Linked DNA regions of Homo sapiens: region 2 is linked to region 1. Evidence: fine-mapped expression QTL. A gene starts in region 1. The other region holds a variant in brackets. All regions are shown on one strand. Distances are from middle to middle.

Region 1 (5,378 bases):
ATAGTTAAATAATTAAATAAGTTATGCTTAAATAGTTAAATAAATTATGGTTGATTGATGCAATTGAATACCATGAACCTGTTAAAAATCAAAGTGTGTGGAAGATCATTTAATAATGTGGAAAGATGTTCCTGATATACTGTTAAATAGTAGTTTCCAAAAAGTATACACAGCATGTTCACATTTTTGTTAAAAAATTTCTTAATTCACACTTAGAAAAAGGGTGGCAAGGAAATGCAACAAAATGTTGACTAAGGGGTGATCTCTTGGTGGAAGAATTATATGTGATTTTATTTTGTGCTTTCTTTAATCAACCTTTCCTGAAAATACTAAAATAAACAGGCACGACTTTGATAATAAGAAAAAAGGTATTTATATTGTAGAGAAAAGGACTCTAAACAGGACCACCTCCCCAGACCCACTGACTGCCTCTCTCTGCCTCTTTGTGCTGAGGATGACCATTCTCAATGTGCAGAGCTATAAACCCCAATCTGCCCTGCCTGGTGTTTTCCTGCTTGTATCTGCACACTTCCCTTTCACGGGCACATGGAACATGAATTCTAAGGGAGATGAAGTAATATCCTGGACTCTAACGGAATGCAAACCTATTTAGGGAAATGCTTTCTGATTTTGGCTAGCATCTGCCAAATGCTAGTAAGAAAAACTTCATTTATTGCCCTTTGGTGAATATGCAGTCATCCTAGAGCTCTTCCTCAGTTGAATCCTTAAATTTCTCTCCCTCCTTTTAAAAAATATGTCTGCCTTCTTATTGCCTCTCTCCAAGGAATCAGCATTGCTTCACCTGTGTTCTTGGTCCTCTTTATCTCTTTTCCTAGGCGGAAAACCTTGAGTTCACATCCAACATCTGCATATTTATTTCCTCTCGCATAGTGTTGGTCAACAGGATGACTCTATAGCTGAACTGACCTGTATCCTTCCTGTTCTACTTTGTTCCCAGTGACTTGTGTCCTGGACTATGGCAACTGGTCTCACAGCCCCTGCCAACACCACCAGTCCGTCCTGTCCACTTTGCACGAGCTCTTCCCAAATCACAGGTCTCATGTTGCCCCTCCCCAGCCTAACACTCTCAGCATGGCCTGCAGTAGAGATTCCTCAATCAGTGGTCTTTCAAAAATGCCTTTAAAAACGCTTAATATGCCTTTAAAAAGGCTTAATAGGAAAAGTCCACACCAACTCCATAAAATACCTCACAAAAGAAGTTTAACATTTTTGATTGGTATTTCTATCTATTATTTCTATTTAGTAATTTGGTTGAGTAAGCAAAGATGTCTTTGATTAATACAGATTGCAAATAAAATCATTGTTAATTAATGCCTTTTGTTTGGTCACCAAATCTTAAAAGCGTAAGTTAGGTCCTTTGAGGAAGATGGAGGAGAAAGGGCATATATATGACAAAGGGTCTTTGGTACTAAAAAGACTGGAAACCACTGGTCCACAAGATTAAGGCCCCAATTCCTTGGCATGGCAATTAAAGACCCCCTGCCCCATATATCCCTTCAACCTCCTCCTCTGTCATGCCTCCACATACACCCCATGCTCTAGCTAAGCACCTCTCACTTCTTCCCACACCTTTGCTTAAGATGTTACTTCCACCTTAAGCCCTTCACTTCCCGTTACTTTTCAGCTCATCCTTTAAAAGGCTTTGCTCAGAATACCTTCTCCTGGGGAAGCCCTTCCCCAGTTCCCATTTGGAATTAATGGAGCTCCTGGAGGTCCTTTACACTGCCCTGCATCAGACAAAGCCTTATTATTATTATTTATAACATGACCCCCTTGTCCTGACCTCCAGGAAGGCAATGACCAGAGTTATAGTTGCTGTCACCCCAGTACCTGCTAGAGTTTGGCTGTGGTAAAGGCTCATGGACTGTGTGTTGATAGGCTTAAATTCCAAGTGTGATGCCATTCTTTGCTGAGAGCCATGTGCATTGCAATTTACTAAGCTCCAGTTTTCCTCTGATCAAGGCAATCTCTCACAACAGAAAGCTGGCTCAGAAACTTTGGAGCAAACCGTCCTGGTTTGAATTCCACAGCTGCTACTTATTCGGTGGTGACCTTGTGCAAGTTACTTAATCTTTTTTAAAAAATAAATTTTATTGTGTATATTTAAAGTATACAACACGATGTTGTAAGATACATATATATAGTGAAATGGGTCCCATCATCTCACAGAGTTACCCATTTCCCCCCACTGAAGTCACTTTATCTGGCTATGTCTCAGCTTACCACCTCAATAATGGGGGAACACCATTAACTCTCACAATGATTTAAAATAGGTGTCACATTGTAGGCTTTCTATAAATTTTATTTCCCGCCCACTGTGAGAAATGAACTTGATAAACTCAACAGTCCCAGGCTACTCCATTCATAGGAAAGAAAACTTCAAGCTTTCAGTTCAAAAGGAAATGTTGGATTTAGCATTTAGGGCTGGAATTTGGCTTCACATCTTGCCCTCTTACCCACCCCAACTTCAGACCATTACCACTCTGATTAAATGGATTTGTTTCAGCTCCCACCCATATTACATCCTGATTCCTTTTCAACAAATTCCTGGACATCTTCACAAGAAGGGAACAGAATTTTGTGATTCAGAGTTATTTGATTGATATTCTGACCTTATTTCTTCTTTAAAGAACTTCTTGCAAATAGATGTCCCGATGCAGGCATTGCATTTATCAAGACCGAGGAAAGTCCTTCCAAAATTGTAGCTGGTTCTGACTTGGGGCACCAGAGAAGAAAGGGAAGAAGCTGGCAAGGAGAAAGAACAGCTCAGGGCTGAGACCCACAGCAGCAGGGCCAGCCAGCCAGGGCGGAGGGCGGCAGCCTCAGGCCCCAGCTGGGGCTCCATCTTGGGCTCTGGGCTCCAGCTGCAGCCTCTGGCTGTCCACTCGAGGCTGTACAGAGGCAGGGCTTGGCCAAAGAGGAAGCTGTCAGAGGGGGCTGGCTTCTGGGTGCTGACCCCATCCCAGCCTCCCAGGTTTCTCTTTGAGGATGCTGAGGAGCTTGGGGCTAATGAGGCTGGGGAGGAGGTGAGGAAGTCAGTGGAGGATGCTGATAACGCTGTTTCCAGAGTTACTCTTCCTTTGCCGGGGGTGGCTGCTTCAGGCTGGGGAGGGGCTCGCTGGCAGATTTCGGGAAGGACAATTGTCAGGGCTTCCCTGTGTGGTCCTTTTGACAAACACAGGATATCCCGGCAGGGCAGGAAAGGTCCATGCAGGATGTGTGTCCAACCTGCGTTCCACCTGGGAGTTTCAAAGGATCCTGAAAGCCTCCACCCTCCACTGTTTTAATTCCAGGTTTATCTGTCCCTATGGATTACACGTGCACCCCAATTTTTGACCCCTCTGTGCTAGGTCATTTGTCCTGCCCCTTAATCAGCCCTCCTTCCCCCACTTTTACCATATTTGCCTGTGAAATAACTAGAGGTTAGCTTGCTTGCCATTAACTGGCACATTTAGCACTGATTTGAAAGCTTTTTGCTGCTTAGGGAAGAGAAAACCTCAGGTTAGTCCATCTTCTCTTGCTGGTCTGAGAACAAGAGACCAGAAAGAACCCGGTGGCCTCTGTGGCATGATGAGGGGAGCACCAGAAAGAGCCCTCTGACAGCACACAGCTGTGTCTATCCCTCTCCCACAGACCTGAAAGCTTCTCTTCCTTTACCAACTTGCTTCACTTCTCGGGGTGGCTTGGCCGGATTTGGTAGGATTTAACTGCCCCAGGATTGCCTTCCTCAGGATACCAAGATAAGGTCCGCAGCATGGAGTAGATGGAAGTGCTAATTTGGGAGTAGAGAGAACCTCTGAGAACCAAATCAGGGAAGTCAGGCTGCCTCACATTCTGTGAGAGGGTGGAGGTGGGGAGCGGGGCACGGTTTGAAAATATGAGAAAGTGCATAGGAAGATGGGGCTGGGGGTGAGGAAAAGGGAGGTAAGAGGGAGTGGGGATTGCCTCTGGACAATTGACAAGTTTTGCTAAAGATTGGTGGGAAGAGCAGGTAAAGGCAATTTTCTGATGATGAAGCACGTGCTTATTAGCATTTGTATAGCTTCCTCAGTAAAATGTCTGGTCATGTTTGCTTTTTATTGGTGAGTTTTGACGCTTGTTTATATATTCTAGATCCGAGTCCTCTGTTGGATATGTGGCTTGCAAATATTTTCTCCCCAGGGCTAACTTGTCTTTTATTCTTTTAACAGAGTCTTCTGCAGAGTGAAAGTTTTGATTTTGAAGTCCAATTTGTTAATTTTTTCTTTTTGAATCATGCTTTTGGTGTCAGGTGTGATAAAAGAAAAACTTAAGCACATTTAAATTTTAAAGAGTTTATTTGAATATTCAGCGATTCATGAATCAGGGCAGTATCAGACTGCAAACATTCTGCTGGGAGGGGCAAGAAAGGAAACTTTTATAGTGTTTGCAGAAGCAGGACAAAGAAAACAATTTTTATTGGTTAGAGTGGAAAGTCCCTAGTTAGAGATTAATTGGTGATTTTTTTGATTGGTACAATTTCTAGTTTAAATTTACTATTTACATTAGGCTTTGGTTTGTTCACACAGGAATTTAAAGTGCCAGAGCCACCTCAGTCTAATGGCCTTCCAATTAGAATTTTAAAACATAATTCATCCTTTTTGATCAGCCTCTCATTTAAGAGATATTGACTAAAACTTGGGCATAAGCTCCACTCTCTGTGACCATCATGGCTAAGTTGTCCTTGTCTCAGTGTGAAACTCATAAGTCACAACATCAAGCTCATTGAGGAAAGATTCCTTTTGTTGTTCATCTCATTTTTGTTGCTCTAATTACAGTGAGATCATCTGGCATACCGTTGATGACTGTGAACACACATTTAAGACCCTCAAGTGAATGTAGTTCACCAGGGAGATTATGATGACTACCAGGAGGATAATACTGAAAGACTGCAGTATGTTCCTTAGCCAAGGTCCTCACAAACCAACTCAACTAACATTTCTAGAGAAACAAAAGAAAACCAAAGGTCAATGACTAGAGCAAACTATAAATTCAGTCTGAGTCCAGAGGAAATTTAGTTAACAAGATTGCTAGATTTGAGCTTGAAACATATTTTTCTGGTTTGCAGTTTGAATGTCTCTGGTTATGGTACTGAGGGTTTCAATGATCTTCCTGAGTGGTCCACATATCAGGCATAAGGGTTGTCCTCAGAAGTCACATCAAGTTGTCTATAACTGCCTGGCAGGGTTTCAGGAACAGAGCACATCTTGTTCTGAGTGATTTCAAGTCTGAAAAATGGGAAAAAATTGGATTGGAGGAATAAAGATGAATTCAGAATTCAGTCCAGTCTACAAATAGACAATAAAACTCAAAAACAACAAATATGGCTACAATCTACT
Region 2 (5,378 bases), 48 kb before region 1:
AAGCTCCTACTGGACCTTCTCTCCTTCACTGGGGCTCAGCTTGCAGGGGTTCTAGAAATATCTCCACAGATCGCTCTTCCTCCCTGGGCCTCAGTTTCCTCATCTGCACAGTGAGGCCTATTAAGCCAGGTGTTCTGACTTTATTTTTATTTATTTATTTTGAGACGGAGTCTCGCTGTGTCATCCAGGCTGGAGTACAGTGGCGTGATCTTGGCTGACTGCAAACTCTGCCTCCTGGGTTCAAGTGATTCTCCTGCCTCAGCCTCCTGAGTAGCTGGGATTACAGGTGCCCGCCACCACACCTGGCTAATTTTTGTATTTTTAGTAAGGATGGGGTTTCACCATGTTGGCCAGGCTGGTCTTGAACTACTGATGTCAAGTGATCCACCCACCTCAGCCTCCCAAAGTGCTGGGATTACAGGCGTGAGCCACCGGGCCTGGCCTGTTCTGACTTTAAAGGTAGGGATTCAGAGGCAGAAAAGAGGAGGTAGACTGAGAGGTTCCTGGGGTTAAAGGCTGGCAGGGAAGCTGGGCAAATGTACAGAAGAGCCCCCTGCTTATGTTTCAGGGGCCAGGGCAAGAGTGTACATGGAAGCCTACATACCATGTGGCTAAATATTTAAAAAGCAAACTAACAAACTGTTGAATAAAGTATGTTCTATTGGTTGACCTTGAAAAAAGTATTTTTCTGATGAGTGACCTGTAAGGCCAAGTTTGAATGAAAATTCCTAGACTCCTTAGAGTCCCAACTCGGAGCATGCGGTGTGGAGAGAGCTGGTCCAGGGCCTCAGCTGTGGCTACAACAAGAATGTTCTCCCACTCAAGATCTCCTGCTCTAGGGAGCGGGGCTGACCAGGGACCCCTGCTGCTGTGCTCTGAAATCTATCTTTGCTGTTTCCGCCAACCACTGAGTGCAGCAGGGATGCTAACGGGGTCTATTTGTGGGAGACACGGGGCTCTTCTGATGGCTGCCTTTGTCTTGAGGACACCCTGACAGCCTTGCTGAACCTTTCTTTGATTTTGAGCTTAGCAAGCTCCTGCCAGACATTCTCTCCTTCACCGGGGCTCAGCTTGCAGCTCGACTTACTGGTCCTCCCAATCTTCTCCGGCTCCCTCCTTCTTTCCTTACACACAATCATTTCCCCTAACAAATCTTTGTTCCATTCACTCTATCTTGACACATATTCTTGGAAGACTTGGGCTAACACATTGGTCCCCCGCCGGCCCCCCTTTATCTTCTTACCCCTGGCTTCTTCCCACACCACGAGAAGCCCCATGCGCAGGTGTATGGAGCCTCAGGTACCAGGCTCTAGGTGGTGGCAGGCATGTCCCCTTGGCCTGCAGTCTCCTCATCCCGCGATGGTGTGGGGAGTGACGCAGGGCCATAGGGAGCAGGAAGGGGGCCCCTCTTGTCCGAGTCTAAAGTGGTAGTGGCAGGGAGCCTGTCCTTCCCCTGCCTTCCCTCCACTCCAGCCTCCTGACCTGAGCAGCTCTTTCTCATGCTCCCCGCCTCTGTGCTTTTCCAGAACACACTTTGTAACCACCTGGGATGGAGGTGGTGAGCATGTGTCCCAAGACCCATGCTTGGGATATATGCTCAGTGGTGGCTCCATCTGTGTCTTCTTTCACCCTCAGGAGAGTCTGGTGGAGAACAGAGGAAACTGAGGCTCAAAGACATTGAGTGAGCGTCCACACCCAGGTCTTCTGATGCCCACCGCGGGCTTTGCCAGGACGTCCCAGCCAGCAGAGACAGCCACGTGGTATCTCACAACTCCCCTCTCAGTCCCTAAGAAATGAGTGTGCCTTTCTTCTCATCTTTAAAAAAGAGCTGCTTCTTTCTACCTTGCAGCAACCCGACTGGGAGAATGGAGAGCCAAGCGTGTTGTCCCCAAGGCCAGCTAGACACCAGCCCTTCAGAACTTATCGTTATATTTGCAATCTGGGTAACGATAGGCAAATCTGGAGTCACACGTTCTCAGGGGCCTCAAGATGTCTTTCAGCTGGCTGGCGGCCCCAAGGACTTCTGGGTCTGGGCGGATGCTGTCCCCACACTGAACAAGGATGGAGTCTATGTCGTCTTGCACTGGGGAGGGGAACCTCCCCTGGAGAAGTCGAGGCAGCAACTTCTGACACACCAGCACCAGGCTCTGCTTCTCAGAGATGCTTTCGCAGGAGGGCAGCTGGGCCTGGCAGCCGGAAACCAGGCAGCTAAAAATGTCTTTATTCTCTCCTGCCCTGTTGGCTTCTTGGCTGCCTAGAAAAGAAATGGGAAGTATTACACACCCTGCCACCAGTGCTCCTTGAGGGAGGGCACCACTAATTAGAATTCCTGGGTGGGGCCGGGCGCGGTGGCTCATGCCTGTAATCCCAGCACTTTGGGAGGCTGAGGCGGGCAGATCACTTGAGGTCAGGAGTCCGAGGCCAGCCTGGCCAATATGGTGAAACCCCGTCTCTACTAAAAATACAAAAATTAGCTGGGTGTGGTGGCATGCATCTGTAGTCCCAGCTACTCAGGAGGCTGAGGCTGGAGAATCGCTTGAACCTGGGAGGCGGAGGTTGCAGGGAGCCAAGATTGCACCACTGCACTCCAGCCTGGGTGACAGAGCGAAAAGCCATCTCAAAAAAAAAAAATTACTGGGTGAACTAGTATAGTCTCCTAGCATTTCCCTGTCACCAGGAGATTTAGGACTCAGGGACACAGTGGCTCCTTTTGAGAACCACGTGGAAAGAATCCACTCTGCTACAATAGAGTGAGGCCTGGGCATGGAAAACCCACTTACCCCTACCAGAAGTTAGGCTGATAATTGTAGAGATCACATTCATATTGTTAGACTCTCATTATTACTAAATTAGTGAACTCAGGAAATTATTGGGACTGGTTTCATTTGCGCCTTTAAAATGCAAAGTGAGGGCCGGACATGGCAGCTCACACCTGTAATCCCAGCC[C/A]TTTGGGAGGCTGAGATGGGTGGATCACCTGAGGTCAGGAGTTCGAGACCAGCCTGGCCAACATGGCGAAACCCCGTCTCTACTAAAAATACAAAAATTAGCTGGGTGTGGTGACAGTCGTCTGTAATTCCAGCTACTCAGGGGGCTGAGGCAGGAGAATCGCTTGAACCCGGGAGGCAGAGGTTGCAGTGAGCCAAGAATGTACCACTGCACTCCAGCCTGGGCGACAGAGTGAGACTCTGTCTCAAAAACAAAAATAAAAATGAAAAACAAAATAAAATGCAAAGTTAGGAGAAAAAACAAGTAATCCCAAATATGTATTCAATGAGTTGTAGTGTGACTGACGTTTCATGATTTACATATCCGGAATATTCTGGAATCAGCCTCATTTCTTCTAATTTGATTCTTTTTAATAAAGGCAAATCAGGAAATAAATGTGTGGTTTAATTTGTCTATTTTTGTAGGCTTTTGCATACAAACAAAATCAGAAATTAGAAAATAAAATCCTTTGTCCTCTTATTGGGCTCAGAAAATTTGGTTAGCATTAGAGATTAGGGTGTTCGAAGGGTTCTAGATCACTGAATGAAACTTTACACATAGTGAGAAACACGATTCAGTCATCCACCTCATTTGGTTCCATGCTTTTTTACTTTGAAAACTTTATAAAGAGCAATTGTGCCAAAATGGATTGCAAAATATACCAGTGAATCAGCCTGATATTTAAGTTTTAGATAAAGGGTAAAAGCATCTGATGAGAAAGACTCTGAGTGGGAGATGGACCCAAAAGTTTTGTGTGTGTGTGTGTGTGTGTGTGTGTGTGTGTGTGTGTGTGTGTGTGACAGAGAGAGAGGAGAGAGAGAGAGAGTGAGAAAGAGAGAGAGAGAGAGAGAAAGGAGGGTCAAGGCAGGTCCCTGGGCCACATAGACCCAATTGCACAACAGCACTGCCCTGGGAGGGTGCAGCTGGGGCTGTGCCACTATGCACAATGCTTCTCATGGACAAGGCCAAATCCACTTCCCCTTTGGAGATGGAGTTAGAGTAGAAATTCAAATAGGAGTGAGGGACATTTTACATGAAATCTAATATTCTCCGAACTTGAGTGGCTCTCACTATGACATGCAGAGATGGGAAAGGCCCAATAGCATGACCCCTGGCCACCCCTCCCTAGCTCCTGTCACCCTGACTTTCCCTCTGACAGCTGCTCAGCCAGGCCCATGCTGAGTACCTTCCTGCTTGTCGATGACGCCCACTGCACTGGCATCCCGGATGAACAGATGCCCGTTGTTAAAGACGCCGAACATGCCTGCATCAATGTGGGTGAAGTAGAAGAAATAGTTCAAATCGTTGCTCCTCAAAGACTCCAGGACACCCAGGAGCTGGTAGGCAAGGTCGGCTGCCTGATCTGGGGGTGCATCATAGAATTCCTGCAGCGGTCTGGTGCTGGTGCTGACGAGGAATCTGCCACAGGAGCCCAGGTACTTGGGCAGCGGCCATCCCTCAGCCCCAGGGAAGATCTGCCAAGCCAGAAGGAGGAGGATTAGAGAGAAAAATCTGGTGACAGCTCTCTATCTGTCTATTATCTCTATCTATCTCCCTATCTATCTATCTATCTATCTATCTATCTATCTATCTATCTGTCTATCTATATCAATCATCTATATCTATCATCTATCTCTATCATCTATCTATCTCTATCTACCTATATCTATCTATCATCTATCATCTCTCTATCTCTGTCCCTCACTGCAAGTACAGAAAGATCAGCATCTCAAAACACATCAGTGAAGTGTCTCTCAACCTTTTTTATACCTCTTGGAACATGGCAATGCCCCATCCCTCCCCTTCCCCATTTTTTAATTATATTACTGATGGGAAGATTCAGAAAAGGAGGCTGCTCTCATTTCTTTGTAGTAGAGTGCATTTCAACAGAGTTCCTCCAAGCAGGGTATGAGAATGTTAATGGACTTGCCACAATTTTAGATAGCATCAGGGATTCAGGGAAATATGTTTAAGAGTTGCATAGTTGAAACAAATAGGATTATTTGAGATTTCACAGATATCACTGCTTAGGAAGAGGCTATGGGAAAAATAATAGAGGATCAACTTAAGTCTGATTTAAAGCAAAACTTTTTTTTTTTTTTAAGAGACAAGGTTTTGCTCTGCTGCCCAAGCTGGAGTGCAGTGGCATGATCAGAGTTCACTGCAGCCTCAAACTCCTATGCTCAAGCAATTCTCTCACCTCAGTCTCCTGAGTAGCTAGGACTTCAGGCACGTGCCACCATGCCTGGCTACTAAAGAAAAATATTTTAAAAAATAACAGTGGCTGGGTACAGTGGCTCACGCCTGTAATCCCAGCACTTTGGGAGGCCGACGCAGGTGGATCACTTGAGGACAGCAGTTTGAAGCCAGCCTGGCCAACATGGCATAACCTT

Direction of the effects. Alleles are on the strand shown, and positions count from the first base shown. SD is a standard deviation of normalised expression in the study named.
For the expression in esophagus mucosa of the gene that starts at base 2,916 in region 1, allele A in region 2 goes with a higher level than allele C (small effect, 0.15 SD a copy in GTEx).

Evidence for each region. PIP is the estimated chance that this variant, and not a neighbour inherited with it, causes the effect.
Region 2: its variant is the best candidate, but not a certain one, in a credible set for the expression of DIPK2B in esophagus mucosa (GTEx, PIP 0.53).

Annotation. Positions count from the first base shown.
Region 1 is chrX:45,197,961-45,203,338 of GRCh38, forward strand. DIPK2B (divergent protein kinase domain 2B) reads right to left here and starts at 2,916. Exons shown (of 5, transcript NM_176819.4): 1 at 2,634-2,916. The coding sequence starts at 2,866.
Region 2 is chrX:45,149,739-45,155,116 of GRCh38, forward strand. It overlaps DIPK2B (divergent protein kinase domain 2B), which reads right to left. Exons shown (of 5, transcript NM_176819.4): 4 at 4,172-4,460; 5 at 1-2,254. The coding sequence ends at 1,914. Among named protein-coding and RNA genes, the nearest start is that of DIPK2B, 48 kb to the right of the region's middle. The variant C/A (reference allele first, on the strand shown) is at 2,947.